Regions from separate parts of the Homo sapiens genome. Here region 1 is linked to region 2. The links come from fine-mapping of genetic effects on gene expression. A gene starts in region 2. The other region holds a variant in brackets. All regions are shown on one strand. Distances are between the middles of the regions. Region 1 overlaps INPP1 (inositol polyphosphate-1-phosphatase). Region 2 holds the start of INPP1 (inositol polyphosphate-1-phosphatase).

Region 1 (9,385 bases), 27 kb after region 2:
TGTGTCTCTTGCTCTGTCTCGCTCTCTTGCTCTGTCTCACTGTCTCTCGCTCACTGTCTGTCTCACTCTTTTGCTCTCTCTCGCTCTCTCGCTCTGTCTCGCTCTCTCTCGCTCTCTCGCTCTGTCTCGCTCTCTCTCGCTCGCTCTCTGTCTCACTCTTTTGCTCTCTCTGTCTCTCTGTCTCTTTCACTCTGTCTCTCTCAGTCTCTCCCTGAATCTCTCGCTCTCTGTCTCGCTCTGTCTCTCTTGCTCTCTCTCGCTCTTTCGCTGTCTCTCTCGCTCTTTGTCTCTTGCTCTCTGTCTCTTGCTCTGTCTCGCTCTCTCGCTCTGTCTCTCTCTTGCTTGCTCTCTGTCTCACTCTTTCCCTCTGTCTCTTTCACTCTTCCTGTCTCTCTCTCGCTCTCTGTCTCTCTCGCTCTGTCTCACTCTCTCTGTCTCACTCTCTCGCTCTGTCTCTCTCTTGCTTGCTCTGTCTCACTCTTTTGCTCTGTCTCTTTCACTCTCCCTGTCTGTCTCTCTTGCTCTCACTCTGTCTCACTCTGTCTCACTCTGTCTCACTCTCTCTGTCTTGCTCTCTCTGTCTCTCGCTCTTTTGCTGTGTCTCTCGCTCTCTCTGTGTGTCTCTCTCTCACTCTCTTGCTCTGTCTCTCTCGCTCTTTCGCTCTGTCTCGCTCTCTGTGTCTCTCGCTCTCTCTCTGTCTCTCTCTCTCGCTCTCTCTGTCTCTCTCACTCTTTAGCTCTCTCTCTCTGTTCTTTCTCCACTGAAACTCTTGAAATGTAATGGCTTATCGTGTGGCTTTACCCTAGGGGAAAAGATTACCTTGAGGTTGTGTTCAACAGAGGAGGAAACAGCAGAGCTTCTTAGCAAAGTCCTCAATGGTAACAAGGTGGCATCTGAAGCATTAGCCAGGGTTGTTCATCAGGATGTTGCCTTTACTGACCCAACTCTGGATTCCACAGAGATCAATGTTCCACAGGACATTTTGGGAATTTGGGTGGACCCCATAGGTAAGTATAGGAAAGTATGTTTGTTCTTATTTGCAATCTTTTTTTTGGTGGTGGGGTTGGGGATGGGTGTTGGAAAAATAAAAATTATTGAGTGTAGTTTAACTCTGCTAGAAGTTTTTAAAATTTTAAAGTTTTAAAACAATGAGAGTTGAGGTGTATGTGTCATGTGTTCTGTATATATACATATATATTATAGCCGTGTGTATATATATACATATCTATAACAGGTGTGTGTATATACACACACATACATACAGGCACACATGCAAAGATGAATTAACTTCTCTTCAAAAGACTTCAGGGACCAGACTGGTAAGTAAATGAGAGAATGAAGTGAGAGCAGTTATGACCAATTGAGCACACATACCATTTAAAGAGCACTTAGCTTTAGCAGATTGTTACCATATGGGAGTACAGGCCAGCTCTTCAGATTTTTAAAGAGAAACCAAAATCCAAGGTTTTCAGCGATATATCCCAATTTCTAACCGTTAGCTACTAATTCAGTTAAAGAAGGAAACAATCAAAAAAACACAGTACAGGTCAAGCAAAAAGCTGAATGTGACGCATGAGCAGTTTGTGAGCCCTGCATGAGCTCTACATTTTTTTTGGTCATGATTGTGATAGAACCATAATGTATAATCCATTGTTTTGAAAATGTAACCCTTTTTTTTGAGACAGAGTCTCGTGTTGCACACAGGCTGGAGTGCAGTGGCACAGTCAGAACTCACTCACTGCAGCCTTGTCCTCCTGAGCTCAAGCAATCCTCCTATCTCAGCTTCCCAAGTAGCTGGGACCCAAGTAGGTGGCAGAGTTGCATGCCACCTCACTAGGCTAATTTTTTATATTGTTTTTAGAGAAGGGGTTTTTACCATGTTTCCCAGGCTGGTCTCGAACTCCTGGGTTCAAGCGATCTGCCTGCCTTGGCCTCCTAAAGTGCTAGGATGATTACAGGCATGACCTACCATGCCCAGCCAGCCTTTATCTTCAATGATGCTATTAATACAAGTTCTAGGTAATAATTTTAATAAGCTCCCCCTTCCTTTTTTTTCTTCCCCACCCAACACAATGGGACCATTCAAGGACCAGGCAAACTCCTCTCTGGGCCCTTCCCATCCTACAAGTGCATTCACAGGATGATACTGAAATGGGTTTAATCTTCAGATAATTATATCACATTCAGCCAGTGGATGATATATGGAAACTAAAAACCTTTCCCCAAATCTTTGATCATTTAAGGGTAAATTGGCATCAGTTATAGTTTCTGAGGGACAGAGATCTCCTGTTTCTTGGTTCCACCCTGAATTGATTCTGTTTTTGAGCTCTTTGAGTCTTTTGCCAGGCACATCCTTAGCCGTGTGTTGACTCCCTAGACGTCAGCAGTCAGCTGCTGGCATGTACATCTCTTAAGGGGAAACCTAGTTTCTCTGCCTCTGTTTCATAGGAGCTCCGTTAATTTCTTTTTTTGGTGCCACCATCATTGTCTCTTTCTTCCTTCTAACTTGAGGGACCAAATAATAATAGTAAAAGATAATATTACCTGTGACCTATTACAGGAGGGGGGCTTTTCTTTTTTTCTTTTCCTTTTTAAAATGTTTGTGGGTACATAATAGGTGTATATATTTATGGGGTAGATGAGATGTTTTGACACAGGCACACAATGTGAGATAAGCACATCATAGAGAATGGGGTATCCATCCCTTTGAGCATTTATCCTTTGAGTAATAAACAATCTAGTTACACTCTTTATTTTAAAATGTACAGTTAAGTTCTTATTGATTATAGTTACCCTATTGTGCTATCAAATAGTAGGTCTTTTTTTTTCACCCATTGGAAGGAGGCTTTTCCATCTCACATTGTACTAGTCCTCTGATTAGTAGTATTTCTAAAATAATCCCACCAATTATTCTGGTTATTACTTTTTCAATGCTTTTGATAAGTAACAAATATTTGAATGCCTGTTATATACAAATTGCTATGCCACAGGAACTATAGACACATCCTCTCCCTTCAAGAGTTCTCACAGTCAGGAAAATGAAACACAAGCAATTTAAAAGTAAAGTACAAGAGGCCAAATAACAATTCAATACAGTGACATCCAAAGGTAAAAAATTATTGGTTACCAAATCAGTAGAAGAGAGAAGTCATATGGAACAGAGTCTTCTAAATGATCTTTACCTGAATCCAAACACATTTGTTTCCTTTTTCAGATTCAACTTATCAGTATATAAAAGGTTCTGCTGACATTAAATCCAACCAGGGAATCTTCCCCTGTGGACTTCAGTGTGTCACCATTTTAATTGGTGTCTATGACATACAGACAGGGGTTCCCCTGATGGGAGTCATCAATCAACCTTTTGTGTCACGAGATCCAAACACCCTCAGGTAAAAGGCAAATATTTTTGGTATATTATGGTTGTTAGAACTTACGACCTCAGCTTTGCTTGTTGTTAGGATTATCACTATATGACATTCCCATGACTTAACACATGGGAGTGTTGCCATTGAAAGTCTGCGTATTTGAATTAAAGTTCTATTTTCAATCTTGGATTTGCGTAATTTTATTTCAGGCCAAGTGCATGCTGGTAGAAATTTTAAAATTAATACTATCCTGTAGAAATCATAGTTTTACATTTGGAATATAGTAATCCTGTTCCCTGTTTCTAGAATCCACTCAAAACCAGATAAGTAGAGTGGTGGTAACACTGCCTTCCAATACATTGGGAATAAGACAGCTGCCATCGCTGTATAGCCAGTTGAACTTTGGTATAATTTTAGAAGTTCAAAACAAAATGTGAAAATTATCCAATGAAAAGATTGGTAGGCATGGCCAGGATCAGAACCTAACTCACACTCCCTTTCTGCCTCCTCCCTTCCACTCTTCCATGCACTCTTAAACAGAGCGTAGAAAGTGGCCAGGACTCAGCTGCCTCTGATCCATGGCCTGTGCTTTGGGGTTGACTCCAGGGCATGGCAAAGTCCAGGTGGAACAAGCAGTTCAGCTTTTTATTGAAATAGGTCATATTTTTTCACTTATATAGGATTACATATTTTTATTGAACCTGAGCTGCTTCAAGTAACAATCATTTGCTCTTTAATAGTCATAAGTTTATACCTCTTAAGTTTTAATATTTTCCCCCTACCCCCACCATCTTCCAAACTAAAAATAGGTTTCTGCTATCTTTAAAAGGTTAATAAGAAATTAAAAAGAATTGGAACAATATGCAGACATAATCATGGCCTAGAAATGGAGGTGGTCAACAAAATAGTTTATGGCACAGATTCAGAGTGAGACTTTGTGGGTTTGAATGCAGATTCTACCACTTTCTAGCTGAGTGGGCCTCAGCAAGCTACTTACTTTCTCTAAGCCTGTTTC[C/T]TTATCTGTAAATATGTAACAACATAGACAGTAAGTTAAGCATTGATAAAGGGAAGGTGCTATAATTATTGTGGTTGCCAAAACTAATAACATTGAGTCCATCTTTCTTTGTGTTGGAAGCCAACGTGAAACTAGTGAATAAGAGAATGAAAAGGAGTTACCAAATAAAGAAAAACTTGTTATAGGGATTGTAGAATATTTGCAGATCAAAAAGAGATATCACTTTTCTATTCCTTTTTCCCTACTAAACTTTAAATACTAAAAGTTGTAATGAAATTTTGCAATGGTTCTGGAAGCTGGAAACCCCATAAATGTTTTAGTGTTGTCCTAGATTGATGTGATAATGCCATAAAATTGAAAGCATTTCTAATTGCAACAACTCAGGCAGCTGCATGCATATAAGTAACTTTCTGAAATAAACTAGCTACCTGATATCTATTCCTAGACTTAAAGGTGTTAAGATTCACCATGTTATGATGAATTGTGTATTTCTTCGTATCATTAAGTTTGAAAGTGACATGAGTAATGAAAAACAAATGTGATAATCATCACCAATTGAAATTTTTCTTCTACAGGTGGAAAGGACAGTGCTATTGGGGCCTTTCTTACATGGGGACCAACATGCATTCACTACAGCTCACCATCTCTAGAAGAAACGGCAGTGAAACACACACTGGAAACACCGGCTCTGAGGCAGCATTCTCCCCCAGTTTTTCAGCCGTAATTAGTACAAGTGAAAAGGAGACTATCAAAGCTGCATTGTCACGTGTGTGTGGAGATCGCATATTTGGGGCAGCTGGGGCTGGTTATAAGAGCCTATGTGTTGTCCAAGGCCTCGTTGACATTTACATCTTTTCAGAAGATACCACATTCAAATGGGACTCTTGTGCTGCTCATGCCATACTGAGGGCCATGGGTGGGGGAATAGTAGACTTGAAAGAATGCTTAGAAAGAAATCCAGAAACAGGGCTTGATTTGCCACAGTTGGTGTACCACGTGGAAAATGAGGGTGCTGCTGGGGTGGATCGGTGGGCCAACAAGGGAGGACTCATTGCATACAGATCCAGGAAGCGGCTGGAGACATTCCTGAGCCTCCTGGTCCAAAACCTGGCACCTGCAGAGACGCATACCTAGAGGAACTCTAACCCCGGTGTACCTGTATAAACTGAACTGTGAAACTGTTTCGGTTATCTCTGTCTTTTGAGGATGGCTTTGTCCTGTTGCTGGTTAACATTCACCTTCCTCTTTTGAGGAGTATTTTTCCATTATGTATTCATAATAATGTTAATTTCAATAAATGACATTCATGCAGCAATTATATTGGTGTATGAAATTCTTACAGTGAATATTGTGCTGTTAGTGCTGCTTGAAACATTTCAATAAAATATTGACCAGGAGCAGTGGCTCATGCCTGTAATCCCGGGACTTGGGGAGGCCAAGACGGGCGGATCACGAGGTCAAGAAATCAAGACCATCCTGGCCAACATGGTGAAACCCCATCTCTACTAAAAATATAAAAATTAGCTGGGCTTGGTGGTGTGTGCCTGTAGTCCCAGCTACTCAGGAGGCTGAGGCAGGAGAATCGCTTGAACCCGGGAGGCATAGGTTGCAGTGAGCCGAGATTGTGCCACTACACTCCAGCCTGGTGACAAAGCGAGACTGTCTCAAAAAAAAAAAAAAATTGATGAACGAGGAAAAAATCCTGTTAAATTAGTAAAACTATGCTAAACATCTAAGCGATAGAAATTTCTCTGAAATATAAGGGAGAATACAGGAGGGGTTTGCTTGAGTTTTGTTTCCTCTCGAAGGGAAAAATCTGCAATTTTAGCCTGTTGGCAGAACATTTAGAACTTAATCTGCGTAAGTTAGCCAAGTTTATGTACTTTTAACAGTATTCTTGTATTTCTTATAGGAAGTAAAGCCTGGAACACTGTGGGCTCCCCCTTTGCAGAGACAGGGAGAGACAGGGATACACACACACACACACACACACACACACACACACACACACATACACAGTGAAAGACACAGACAAACAGAAAGACACATATACACACACAGAAGCAAAAGAGTACAATGAGTAGAGGTTTCTGCAATTTTTGCATATTTACTACACTTTACCAAAAACCAGAGGTGGACTTTAGATATATACAACCCTTGTGTACCAGCATCCCACAGTGAATGTTCTCTGAAGTGGACATAAAGTACTTTTTCTGTATTCTCTGTGGCAGGCCTGGTAACCAGAGAGTGCCAACTGCAGGGATCAAATCCTCGGCTCTGACTTCATTCTGCCCTACGCCCCCTGGGGGCCAAAGGATGTTTCTACAGATCCTCTATTTACAAATGCATGAAAATAACAATCTTATTTTCTAATGTCCTTACACTTAAAAATTTTTGACAAATTATGTTTATGTCATATGATATGATGCTTTGACATATGTATATATTGCAGAAGGGCTAAATCAAACTAACATTACCTTACATTTTTTTGTGTGTGTGTGTAGTGAGAACACTTAAAATCTGTTAGCAATTTTCAGGTAAACAATACGTTGTTATTAACTATAGTCACCACGTCATAGGATCTTTTGAACTTATTCTTCCTGTTAACTAGGATTTTCTATCCTTTGACCAACATCTCCCAAACACTCCAGCCCCTGATAACCACCATTCTACTCTCTGCTTCTGTGAGTTTGACTTTTTCAGTTTCCATGTGTAAGTGAGGCCGTGTGGTATTTGTCTTTCTGTGCCTGGCTTATTTTACTTAACAATGTCCTTCAGGGTCATCCAAATGACAAGATTTCTTTTTTTATGGCAGAATAGTATCCATTGTGTATACATATTAATACCACATTTTCTTTACCCATTCATTCATATCTTGGTTGATTTCATATCTTGGCTATTGTCAATAATATCAAAATGAGCATGGGAGTGGAGGTATCTCTTTAACATACTGATTTCTTTTCGTTTTTTTTTTTTTTTTTTTTTTTTGTTTTGTTTTTTTTTTTGAGATAGGGTCTCACTCTGTCACCAGGCTGGAGTGCAGTGGAATGATCATGGCTCACTGCAGCCCCAACCTCCTGGGCTCAAGCGATCCTCCCACCTCAGCCTCCTAAGTAGCTGGGACTATAGGTGCATGCCACCATGCCTGACTAATTTTTGTGTTTTAGTAGAGATGGGGTTTTGCCATGCTTCCCAGGCTGGTCTCGAACTCCTAGGGCTCAAATTTCTCAATTGGAGGGGTCAAAAGCTGGATGGAAGAGGGAATCATTATATTCTGTGAACATCTATAATGTATATTATTCACCATCAATCTTTGCAGAAAAGCCAAAGCCCTTTCTTTAAGCATGTGCCTCTGATGGGTCTGCATTGTTTTTCTTGCAGAAGCCACAACCAGGTGACTATGATTTCTAGTTTTATTTTCTGTAGAGGAAGAACTTAAAAATATTCCATTTTTACAGTGGTGTTTGTTTTTGAGACAGAGTCTTGCTCTGTCACCCAGGCTTGAGTGCAATGGCACGATCTTGGCTCACTGCAACCTCTGCCTCCCAGGTTCAAGTGATTCTCCTGCCTCAGTAGCTGAGCATAAATCTCAGCTACTCTCCTGAGTAGCTGAGATTACAGGCACTTACCATCATGCCCGGCTAATTTTTGTATTTTTAGTAGAGACAGTGTTTCGCCATGTTGGCCAGGCTGGTCTCGAACTCCTGACCTCAGGTGATCCATCCACCTTGGCCTCCCAAAGTGCTGGGATTACAGGCATGAGCCACTGCGCCTGGCCACAGTTTTCTTACCAACTAATTTTTTGGTTCACCTTTACCCACACTTACTAAAGCCTCCAATTCTTTGTTTTCAAACCCACACTCCATTACTTTACGTTATATTAATTTAATTATTAGAAATAAAATTGGAATATAGAGTTGTGGAAAGAAGTAAACAATTTTTTTTTTTTTTTGAGATGGAGTCTCACTCTGTCACCTGGGCTGGAGTGCAGTGGTGTGATTTTGGCTCACTGCAACCTGCACCTCCCGGGTTCAAGCAATTCTCCTGCCTCAGCCTCCCTAGTAACTGGGATTACAGATGCCTGCCACTATGCCCAGCTAATTTTTTGTATTTTTAGTAGAGACAGGGATTCACCACGTTGGCCAGGCTGGTCTCCAACTCCTGACCTCGTGATTCACCCGCCTTGGCCTCCCAAAGTGCTGCCACTGCACCCGGTCAACAATTCTTGGTATGCAGGCAATTTATCTGATGGGAACAGGAGTTGGAGGTAGTGATGGAGGGGTGTTCTACAGAGGAGCCTCTTGGCCATGAAAGTCAAGTGTCTTTTGCATCAGTCTGTGTTTTACAGGAGGATGGATAGAGAGATTAGTCTGCCAGGTCACTTAGACACAGAGTAGTACAAAGAGAGCCTCAACTGCACATCAAGAAGAGCAGTCTTTGGGAATCCAAGTCAACATCCCTTCCTTTCTTGCTCTCACAACCTATATGCAATCACTCAGGAAACTCTCTGGTCTCCACTTTCAAAAATATATCCAGAATTCAGCTATTCCACATCACTGTCCTATACCCCACCCTGCTCCATGCCTTTTTATGCATCACCTGGATTATTGCAATAAACTTCTAACTTGCCTCCATACTGTTCATTCTCAAGACAGAAGCCAGAGTGATCTTTTTCAAACACAGATCAGATCATGTCCCTCTTCTGTTCAAAATTCTCCAAAGCACAATAAAATACCATCTTACACCAGTCAGAATGGCCATTATTAAAAAGTAAAAAAAACAAAAACTGATGTTGGCAAGGATGTGGAGAAAAAGAGATGCCTATACACTGATGATGGGAATATTAATTAGTACAACCTCCATGGAAAAGAGTATGGAGATTTCTCAAAAAACTAAAAGTAGAACTACCATTCGATCCAGCAATCCCACTATTGGGCTACCCAAAGGAAAAACAAAATAATCACCTCAAAAAGACATTTGCACTCATGTTTATCACAGCATTCT
Region 2 (9,470 bases):
TATACACTGTGGCCATAACTTTTGCAGTTTGAGGTACAACAGCAAAACTAACGTGAATTTCTTTTTCCTTCACAATTTCACAGGTAGAAGATTCATTCTTATCATAGATCTTAGCGACCTCAGCATATGGATTTTTTTCTTTCCTTACTAATTCAAAAACTTTTGGGTTTTCACTTAAAAGAAGCACTTTATGACTTTTCTTTGGCATACCCAAATTGCCAACATTACTACTCTTGTGTTTAGGGGCCATTATTAAGTTAAATAAGTGTTACTTGGACATAAGTACTGCAATACCTTGACAGTAGGTCTGACAACCAAGCCAACTACAAAGTGACTAACAGACAGGGGAGCATCTACAGTGTGGACACACTGAACAAGAGGGATGACCCATGGCCTGGACAGGATACAGCAGGATGGTGCACAATGTAAAACTTATGAATTGTTTTATTTCTGGAATTTTTCATTTAATATTTTCAGATCTTGGTTGATCATAACTGAAACCTTGGAAGCAAAACCACAGATAAGGGGAGACTAGTGTACTGGGAACTCAGATGTTCGATAATAGAGGAAACCTTAACTAAATAATGATATCAACCATTCTGCTATTAAATAAAAGTGCTCAGAAGAGCATTATGTAATCAGGGAGTACAGAAGAGAGAGCAACCAACTCCTTACAGAGATTGTAATAAAAGATTTTCCCAAATTAACAAATGAGGTGCTTTGTTGTCCCCCAAGCAAAGTTTCGTATATTTTTTAATTATATAAACAATACATTTCATTATGGGAAACATATACATAAAACAAAAAGCAAATATCTACAATTCCATCCCCTGCCCTAGACCACTATAAATATCTGTTTATATCTTTCCAGATTTTTTTCTATGCATTTATACACACATGATTATGTTGTTTTCGGGATCACACCATATTATTTTGTAAACTGTATTTTCCACTTAATAAATCATAAATACTATTTTATCCAATAGATACCATTCTGCAACATTTTAAAATTTTAACACTTTTTAAAAACTTGCCTCCGTGTATCTAGTTGTAACTAATTTTTATTCTCGGACATTTAGTTTGGTTTCTCTTTTGGCCATTACCAAATGTACTGTGATGAGACTTTACATTTTGGGGGTGATACAGTTTGGATGTCCCATTCAAATTTCATGTTGAGATATAATCTCCAGTGTTGGAGGTGGAGCCTGGTGGGAGGTGTTTGGATCATAGGGGCGGATCCCTCATGAATAGCTTGGGCCATCTCCTTGGTGATAAGTGTGCTCTCACTCTGAGCTCACAGGGATCTCATTGTTTATGTGGCTCCTCCCCCCCAACTCCTTCTTGCTCCCGTTCTCACCATGTGAGACATCTGCTCCCCATCACCTTCCAGCATGATTGGAAGCTTCCTGAGGCCCCCCCAGAAGCAGATGGCATTATGCTTCCTGTACAGCCTGCAGAACCATGAGCCAGTTAAACCTCTTTTCATATAAATTAACCAGCCTCAGGTATTTCTTTATAGTAATGCAAGAATGGCCTAACAAGGGTGGGGGGAGGGGGGGCAGTTTTTTTTTTTTTTAAACACACACACAAAAGAAAAGCCACAGAGACATATGTGGCCTTCAAAGCCCAAAGTATTTGCCATCTGACCTTTTATAGAAAATGTTTGTATTATAAATTTCCAGGAATGTAATTTTTAAGTCAAAGTGTGTGAACATTTTTGACGCTTTCACTACATTCTGTCAAATTGCTCTCCAGAATCGTTGAGCCAATTTACACCCTTCTCAGTAATGTATGAGTTTCTTTAGTTGCTATACATCCTACTCCAAGGGTCACTGGCCCAAATTACTAGCTCTGAGTATTATTTTATTCTCAATTTGATGGTGCATTATCGTTTTAAGTTTTTACTTCTCTTAAAAATGTTTGGCCATTTACATTTTTCTCTCATGATGACGAATTTGCATTTTGCTCATTTTTAGTAGGCTATTTTTTCTTTCTAAGTTCTCTTTAATGTTATGCTTATCTGTCATGTATATTGCAAATTTTTTGTAATTTTTACTTGTTTTTAAATTTTATTCTATGGGGTTTTTTTTTGGATAAAAGAAGTTAAAAGTTCAACAGTCAGATCTGTCACTTTTCCTTTGTAATTTCAGCCGTTGTTTCATGCTTAGTTTGAGATTAAAAGCAATTCACTTGTATTTTCTCCTTGCCCTTTTAAGACTTAAAAACATTTAAATCTTTTAATCCTGTTCAAATTTAGTGTCTGGGAAACATTTTAGAAGGATGAATAGGTAATATTATGTTAGTCCTGGAGTCAGATTGCTGGGTTCAAATTTAGCCTCACCAAATACTACATATTTCTGCAAATCACTTAAACTCTTTAAGTCTTAGTTTTCTTGTTTATAAAATGGAGATAACAGTAACATTTACCATAGGGTTGATGTAAGAATTAACAGTTATAAATCACAGAAAGTACTTAGCACAGTGTCATTAGCTATTATTATAGCAGCAAGAGAATACTCTCCCAGGCAAAAGCAATAACATGTATAAAGGTGCAAATGTATGAAATCTGTTTGCATATTCAGGGAACTAGATGTGGTGTAGTAAAATGAGGTGTAATATTCAAGGGGCAGAGTTGACAGATGCGAGGGGTGATGGGTCTTGAATGAGTTGTTCAGGAACTTGCTCTTGATATTATCAGAGATTGGGAGCCAATGAAAGCTTTTAAGCAAGCAAGAAACCCTGCAGATGTGTGGTAGCAAAGTGGAAAATGGACTAGATTCCGCCAGGTGCAGTGGCTCACGCCTGGAATCCTAGCACTTTGGGAGGCTGAGCTGGGCGGATCCCCTGAGGTCAGGAGTTCGAGACCAGCCTGGCCAACATGGTGAAACCTCGTCTCTACTAAAAATACAAAATTAGCTGGGCATAGTGGCAGTCACTTGTAATCCCAGTTACTAGGGAGGCTGAGGTGGGAGAATCGCTTGAACGAAGGAGGCAGAGGTTGCAGTGAGCCAAGATCATGCCACTGCACTCCAGCCTGGGCGACAGAGTGAGACTCTATCTTAAAAATAAAAAAAAAAGAAAAGAAAAGAAAAGAAAAATGGACTAGATTTATATCCCTTGCTCCACCCTGTCTTCCCCAAATTTAAATTCCTGCTTCCTAGAGGCAAATTCTTTCACCTTCTATGTCTCTGGTATTTATCTCCTTACTTTTAAGAATCATGTTTAAATTGTTTCTTGATTTTGCCATCATAGATATGATTATGAGGCTAATTAAACAGTAATCCTAACCGCTCTGAGAATGGACCTAAGAAATGAATGTGAGAAAGAAAGTAGAAGCAGCCCACTTGCTAGTGAGTGAAAGCCAGGGAAGGGTGGGGGGATGCGGGGAGAAATTGTCTCAAGTTGGAGAACCCAGGTGCAGGCTGGGAGCAGTACCATGAATTCCATTCAAGAAGCCAAACGTTTTAAGCACCATTTCCTGGAGTTTGCCAAGTTGAGTATTGACCCAGCCTCCTGTCTTGTTGGTTCCTCACTGCTGAAGAAGACCAAGTGTTGACAACTCAGTGAGGCAGTCTCAGCTGGAGTGGAAAAATGTAGCTAAGAAAACGTGCCAGACAAAGCTTTAAGCAGAGCTTCCCAACTGGATGCCGTGAAACGAATGACAGGGATGCAGATACAGCATGGGTCTTCCCAGCCCTCCAAGTGCAAGGGCTTCTGCAGGAAGCCTTCTGCAGGAGCAGCCTCTTCTGTTTACCCCCATTTTGACCCTTGTAATATCATCCTTTCCTACCTGTGCCAAGAAGTGAAAAGGTGTGTGAAGCGCCGCTTTAGAAGGCCCAGTACATTCACAAACATCAGCTTCTGGGCGAGGCTGCTTGGCCTCTTCTATTCAAAACTTTGTGTTGCCCTTTTAAGGTTTCTATTCCCCCCACCCCCACCCCGCCCACCAACACCCATTCCTACCTAGGTTCAACCCAAACCATCCTTAAGGTACACTGAGTATCACAGCACCAAAGGCTGGAGAGAGATAAGTTCCCCACCCTTGATGCGCTTCCTGTCCAGGTGGCCCGAGGCCCACTCCTTAAGAGGCAAGGCCCAGAGACACTGCTGTGTCTTGAGGAACATCCAGTACACCTGACATTTCCATTAGAACAGTGGGACCCGGATACCACTGGCAGGAAGTCCATCTTCACAGCTGCCAACCCATCTGTCAAACCCGCAGTCCCCTATGAGAGTACAGATGAATGGAGGAGGAAGATTTAAAAGTGAATTCGTGGGCGGCGACAAGGAAACAGCAGCCGTGGCCAAGCTGACCCCAGAGCCCTTCCCTTCCTGGCCCTCCCTCTGAATCATCGCGCTCCACTTGTGACGTCGCGGACGCCCGGCTCGGGCAGGCGTGGGGGGCCCGCGCGTCCCGGGAGCCCCGAGGCGGCAGCGCGCGTTTCCACGCCGCGGTCCCGCGGGAAAGCCGGGGGCGGCGGCCTGGCTGAGGCCAAGCTCGGATCCGGTGCCGAGCCAAGCGGGGCCGTGCGTCGCCGGGGCTTCGCCTTCGCTCGCGTGACCTCCGCCGTCCTCCCCAACCCTCGTCCTCTGGCCGCGCCTGCGGCCGCACGCCCAGCGCCCCTCGCCTAACCTCGCGCCCGGGCCGCGCCTCCTCCTCCTCCTGCTCCCCGCCGCTTCCGTTTCTCGAGGGAAAGGCTGCTGCCTCCTGCTCTGTCCTCATCCCCGGCTTAGGTAACACGTTTTCCTCCTTACGACACCCACCACAGGGTCCCCGCGCCGCTGCCCCTCCTCCTTGGATCTGGGGCCCGGGCTGGTGAGCGGCGCGCGCCGTCGCCTCTCCGCGGGTAGGTGAGTCGATGGCGCCGGGAGGGTTCCTCGCCTCTGCGCGCCGGCCTGCGAGGTCCCTGCCCCGGCAGCGAGGCCGCCCCCGGCCGGGCCCGGCCAGGCATGCCCGGCATCGCCGCTGCAGCCAGCGCGGAGGGGAGCTCGTGAGTCCCGCGGCGCCCTTGGCCCTGCCCGAGCGGCCCGATGGGGTTGGGGGGCGGGAAGAAAGGGTGGCAAACAACGATTTTAAAAATCCAGTCATTAGTATTTGTAGGACGAAGAAGCTGATCTGACAGTTGTCCAGAGCAGTGGCCCAGCTGCAACAGGTAGATGGCGCAGCTGTCAGTGACCCCTTGGTCTCAGCCTTGGCTTTGAGAGATGCATCTGAGTGTCCCTAGCTGCCAGCTACCTCCAGTGACCTACTTGATGAGTGTGAAATAAATATGATGGGACTATATTTAGAAAAATCTTTACTTCCTTGCTGTTAATTCTCTCTGCATTTTGAAAGGTGGTTTTGTGAGGTGTGCATAATTAGTTGGTGTGTCCAGAGTGGTAGCTGGAAAAAAATATTTAACCTGGGTTTGGCCCTATCATGTAGACGGTTAGGCGCAAAGAGTGTGAAAGGAAACGCTTACTTTAGTACATCTGTGAAAAACACTTATAAGAAACCACGGCTTGTTTTTTGGAGATTTCTCATTTTAAAGGTATTTTTAAAGTGTTGAATAAGCAGAAGTTTGCCCACTGTATGATGGTGTTCACTTCAAAAGAACAGTGGGTTAAAAGTATGGACAGACCACTTAAGTGGATCCCATCTGTTGAGTAAAAGATTTTTTAGCCCTTTTACACTGATTCCTAGCTTTGAAGCCAGAAAAGTTGATAAGGATCAGCCCTGCTCAACTTGATAATAGTATAAGGATGAAAGTAATCCACTGAACTACTCTTGATTGGTGAATTAGCTAAGTGATCTCATTCTTACCTTTTAAAATAGAGAACATAAGGGAAAAAATAAAGGCAATGGAAGAATTCATTTTTTCAATACAGATATTTGTTTCCATTCTTATGTAGAGCCTACTTTATTTTTAAGTTTTTATGGATTTTTATACTACTTTTGAAGTCAGCTTAGTCATGAAGAGAATTATGTCAAATACATAGAGTTACACTGTACTTTTTGTGTAGAATAAGCTACCACTTTTCAAGCTTTTGGACTAAACCACCGCTTGCTTGGAAATTGCAGCTTTGACTAATGCCCTTTAAAATGATATACCTTATTATAGATTTAAATTATAGCTTTCCTTGTTATAGTCCTGAAAAAAATGAAAAGATAATTTCTTGTTTGACATAGAAGGCCTGTGAGACAAAAGTTATAAAGGTTATTATATATTTATTTTGCTTTTTAATTCTGTCTCTAATAACAGTTAGAAAATGTCTCATTCTATTTCATGTTATACAGAAATTGCTTAAAAGATAATTATGTTATATAAAGTGATCAATGAAAACAAACGTCATCTTCATTTTTTAAAGGTGAGGATGGTGTATATAAGCACTTTTTCCCGATGTGAGTCCTTATGAATGTTCTTGTTAAAATACTTTGAATCTTGTAATGAAGTTAATAAAACTATGTTAATGTGTTTGGCTGAGAGCTTAGAAATAAAGGCTCTGGCTGGCGTGGTGGCTCACGCCTGTTATCCCTGCACTTTGGGAGGCCAAGGCAGGTGGATCACTTGAGGTTAGGAGTTCGAGACCAGCCTGGCCAACATGGTGAAACCCCGTCTCTAGTAAAAATACAAAAATTAGCCAGGCGTGGTAGCAAGCACCTGTAGTCCCAGCTATTCAGGAGGCTGAGGCTGGAGGATCCCTGGAACCTAGGAATCAGAGGTTGCAGTGAGCCCAGATCGCGCCACTGCACTCCAGCCTGGGCGACAAAGCAAGACTTCATCTCAAAAAATAAAAATTAAGTTAAAATTAAAAAAATAAAAGTTCTGCTTCCCGTCTCCTGTGATTGATGTTGGGTACTGTTTCTCAAACTTGTCTGATTGTAAAATTCCTCAGGGTAGTAGGCAAGTCGGGGAGTGGGTAGAGTATAATAGTGGTTTAAAAGATTCCCAGATTGCAACTTGAGACTTCCTGGATCAGAATTTCTAAGAGAAAGGAGATATTTCAAATAGACAAAAATGATAAAATTTTAAAATAGTCAACAACAACAAAAAAGGTGAGTTTGGGAAATGCAGGTGGGAAATGACTATTGTTGGAATGAATAGTTGATAAAACTTATTAGGACTCCTGTACATAAAATGTTCATATATGGAAACTGATTTTATTAATATGATGAGGCCACTCATTTAGGAAATCTGAAACTTTTATATTTTTTTCTGGTCAAGCTTCTGCTGATCAAATTTAGCAAACATATTTTTGCATGTTTAGTCTTTTTTATGTGGTATGTAATGTTAATTCAATTTCTTGAATGTGATAAGAGCATTTTATTAATGGATGACTAATGCAGATTACTGTAACTAGTAATCCACAGCAAAATATTGTACCTAATAATTTCTCTTTCTTTTTTTTCTTTTTTTCTTGAGAAAAGGTCACACTCTGTCATCCAGGCTGGAGTACAGTGGTGTGATCATGGCTTATGCAGTCTCCACCTCTCAGGCTCAAGGAATCCTCCCACCCCAGCCTCCCGAGTGTCTGGGACTACAGGCACGTGCCACCATCCCAGCTAATTTTTAAAATTGTAGAGATGGGGTCCCACTATGTTGCCCAGGTTGGTCTCAAACTCCTGGGCTCATGACATCCTCCTGCCTCAGCCTCCCAAAATGCTGGGACTACAGGTGTGAGCTGCTGCACCCAGCCTAATTTCTTTCATATTATAGATTTATTTGTTACCTCTTCCATGTGCCTGATTAAATAATTATAGGCAAGACAGGCATGCAAATTTGAATACCTTATTAGTAGCTTTTTTTTTTTTTTTTTTTTTTGAGACAGAGCCTCACTCTGTTGCCCAGGCTAGAGTGCAGTGGTGTGATCTCGGCTCACAGCAACCTCTGCCTCCCAGGTTCAAGCGATTCTCCTGCCTCAGCCTCCCGAGTAGCTGGGATTACAGGTGCCCGCTACCACACCAGGCTAATTTTTTGTATTTTTAGTAGAGATGGGGTTTCACAGTGTTAGCCAGGATGGTCTCGATCTCCTGACCTCGTGATCCACCCGCCTTGGCCTCCCAAAGTGCTGGGATTACAGGCGTGAGCCACCACACCTGGCTCCTTATTTGTAGCTTTTTAAAAAATGACTCTCAACCCCATTCAAAAAAGAAAAAAAAATTTATTTGGCCCTAAAACTTGGTCAGTTATATATAAAAAAATTAAAGAAATAGAATATTAAATACCTATAAAATAATTTGACAAGATGAGTTACCATAATGGAAAATGTCAGAATTTATTTTCCTTTTCCTTCTTCCTCTTTACATTGCTTTTCTTTCTCCTTTTTTGGGGGGGGATGGAGAGTGTGTGTTATTTGCTCATTTGTTTTTATTTTTAACCAACTAAATATTTAAAATATAGTAAATTATCCATGTTTAAATTAATTTAAATATTTGCCAACTTTACCAATAGATATTTAAACTTGCCCTTTTCCTCTAAAGTGACAGTGGTAGGCTTTGCTCAATGCAAATGAGAGTAATAATTCATATCAAAGGAGTTAAATTCAAGTGACCAAAGAAAATTGTTCTTTTAACATTGCTTAAGGAAAGCATAACTTAAATTGATGCCATAATTTTTCATTATCAGCAACTCTTAAAATGAGGATGGAGGCTGGGCATGGTGGCTCACGCCTGTAATCCCAGCACTTTGGGAGGCCAAGGCGGGTGGATTACCTGAGGTCAGGAGTTCGAGACCAGCCTGGCCAACATGGCGAAACCTGGTCTCTACTAAAAATACAAAAATTAGCTAGGTGTGGTAGCGCGTGCCTGTAATCCCAGCTACTAGGGGGGCTAAGGCAGGAGAATCGCTTGAACCTGGGAGGCGGAGGTTGCAGTGAGTCAAGATCGTGCCACTGCACTGCAGCCTGGGCAACAGAGCGAGACTCTGTCTCAAAAACAAAACAAAACAAAACAAAACAAAACACCGGTGTGGTTGCTGTATGAAATCAACTTAAATAGCCTAGTGCCCTTCTTTAAACCTAATTTTCCTATCGCTACCCCCACTTGTTTTTTAAAAATATAAGTCAACAAATATTTATTATGCCCTTATTATGTAGATGATAAACATCAAAAGCTTTTGAAATGTGCATTTCTTTGAACCTGTAATTTTTTGTTTTTTTTTAACTTTAAAAAAATTGTGGTAAAAGATATCTAATATCAAATTTACCATTTTAACCGTTTTCAAATTACAGCTCAGTGGCATTAAGTACATTCACTTTGTTATGCAACCATCAGCACTGTTCATGTCCAGAATTTTTTCATCATCCCACACAAAAACTATACCCATTAAACAATGACTCTACCCTCTCTTCCCAGCCCTAGTAACCACCATCCTACTTTCTGTCTCCACGAATTTGACATTCTGAGTACCTCATACAAGTGGAATCATAGAGTATTTGTCTTTTTCAGTCTGGCTTATTCATGTGCCATAATGTCTTCAAGTTTCATCCAT

The links. PIP is the estimated chance that this variant, and not a neighbour inherited with it, causes the effect.
Region 1: its variant is fine-mapped to the expression of INPP1 in cerebellar hemisphere (GTEx, PIP above 0.99). The same link has a PIP of 0.9 or more in nasal epithelium, prefrontal cortex, tibial nerve and whole blood.

What each region holds. Positions count from the first base shown.
Region 1 is chr2:190,365,888-190,375,272 of GRCh38, forward strand. INPP1 (inositol polyphosphate-1-phosphatase) reads left to right here. Exons shown (of 7, transcript NM_001128928.2): 5 at 808-1,008; 6 at 3,216-3,390; 7 at 4,957-5,778. The coding sequence ends at 5,515. Among named protein-coding and RNA genes, the nearest start is that of INPP1, 27 kb to the left of the region's middle. The variant C/T (reference allele first, on the strand shown) is at 4,382.
Region 2 is chr2:190,339,228-190,348,697 of GRCh38, forward strand. It overlaps INPP1 (inositol polyphosphate-1-phosphatase), which reads left to right and starts at 4,362. Exons shown (of 7, transcript NM_001128928.2): 1 at 4,362-4,734. It overlaps LOC124906109 (serine/arginine repetitive matrix protein 1), which reads right to left and starts at 5,822. Exons shown (of 1, transcript XM_047446773.1): 1 at 1-5,822. The coding sequence starts at 5,089. The coding sequence ends at 4,211. RefSeq lists silencers at 4,348-4,657, 4,728-5,057.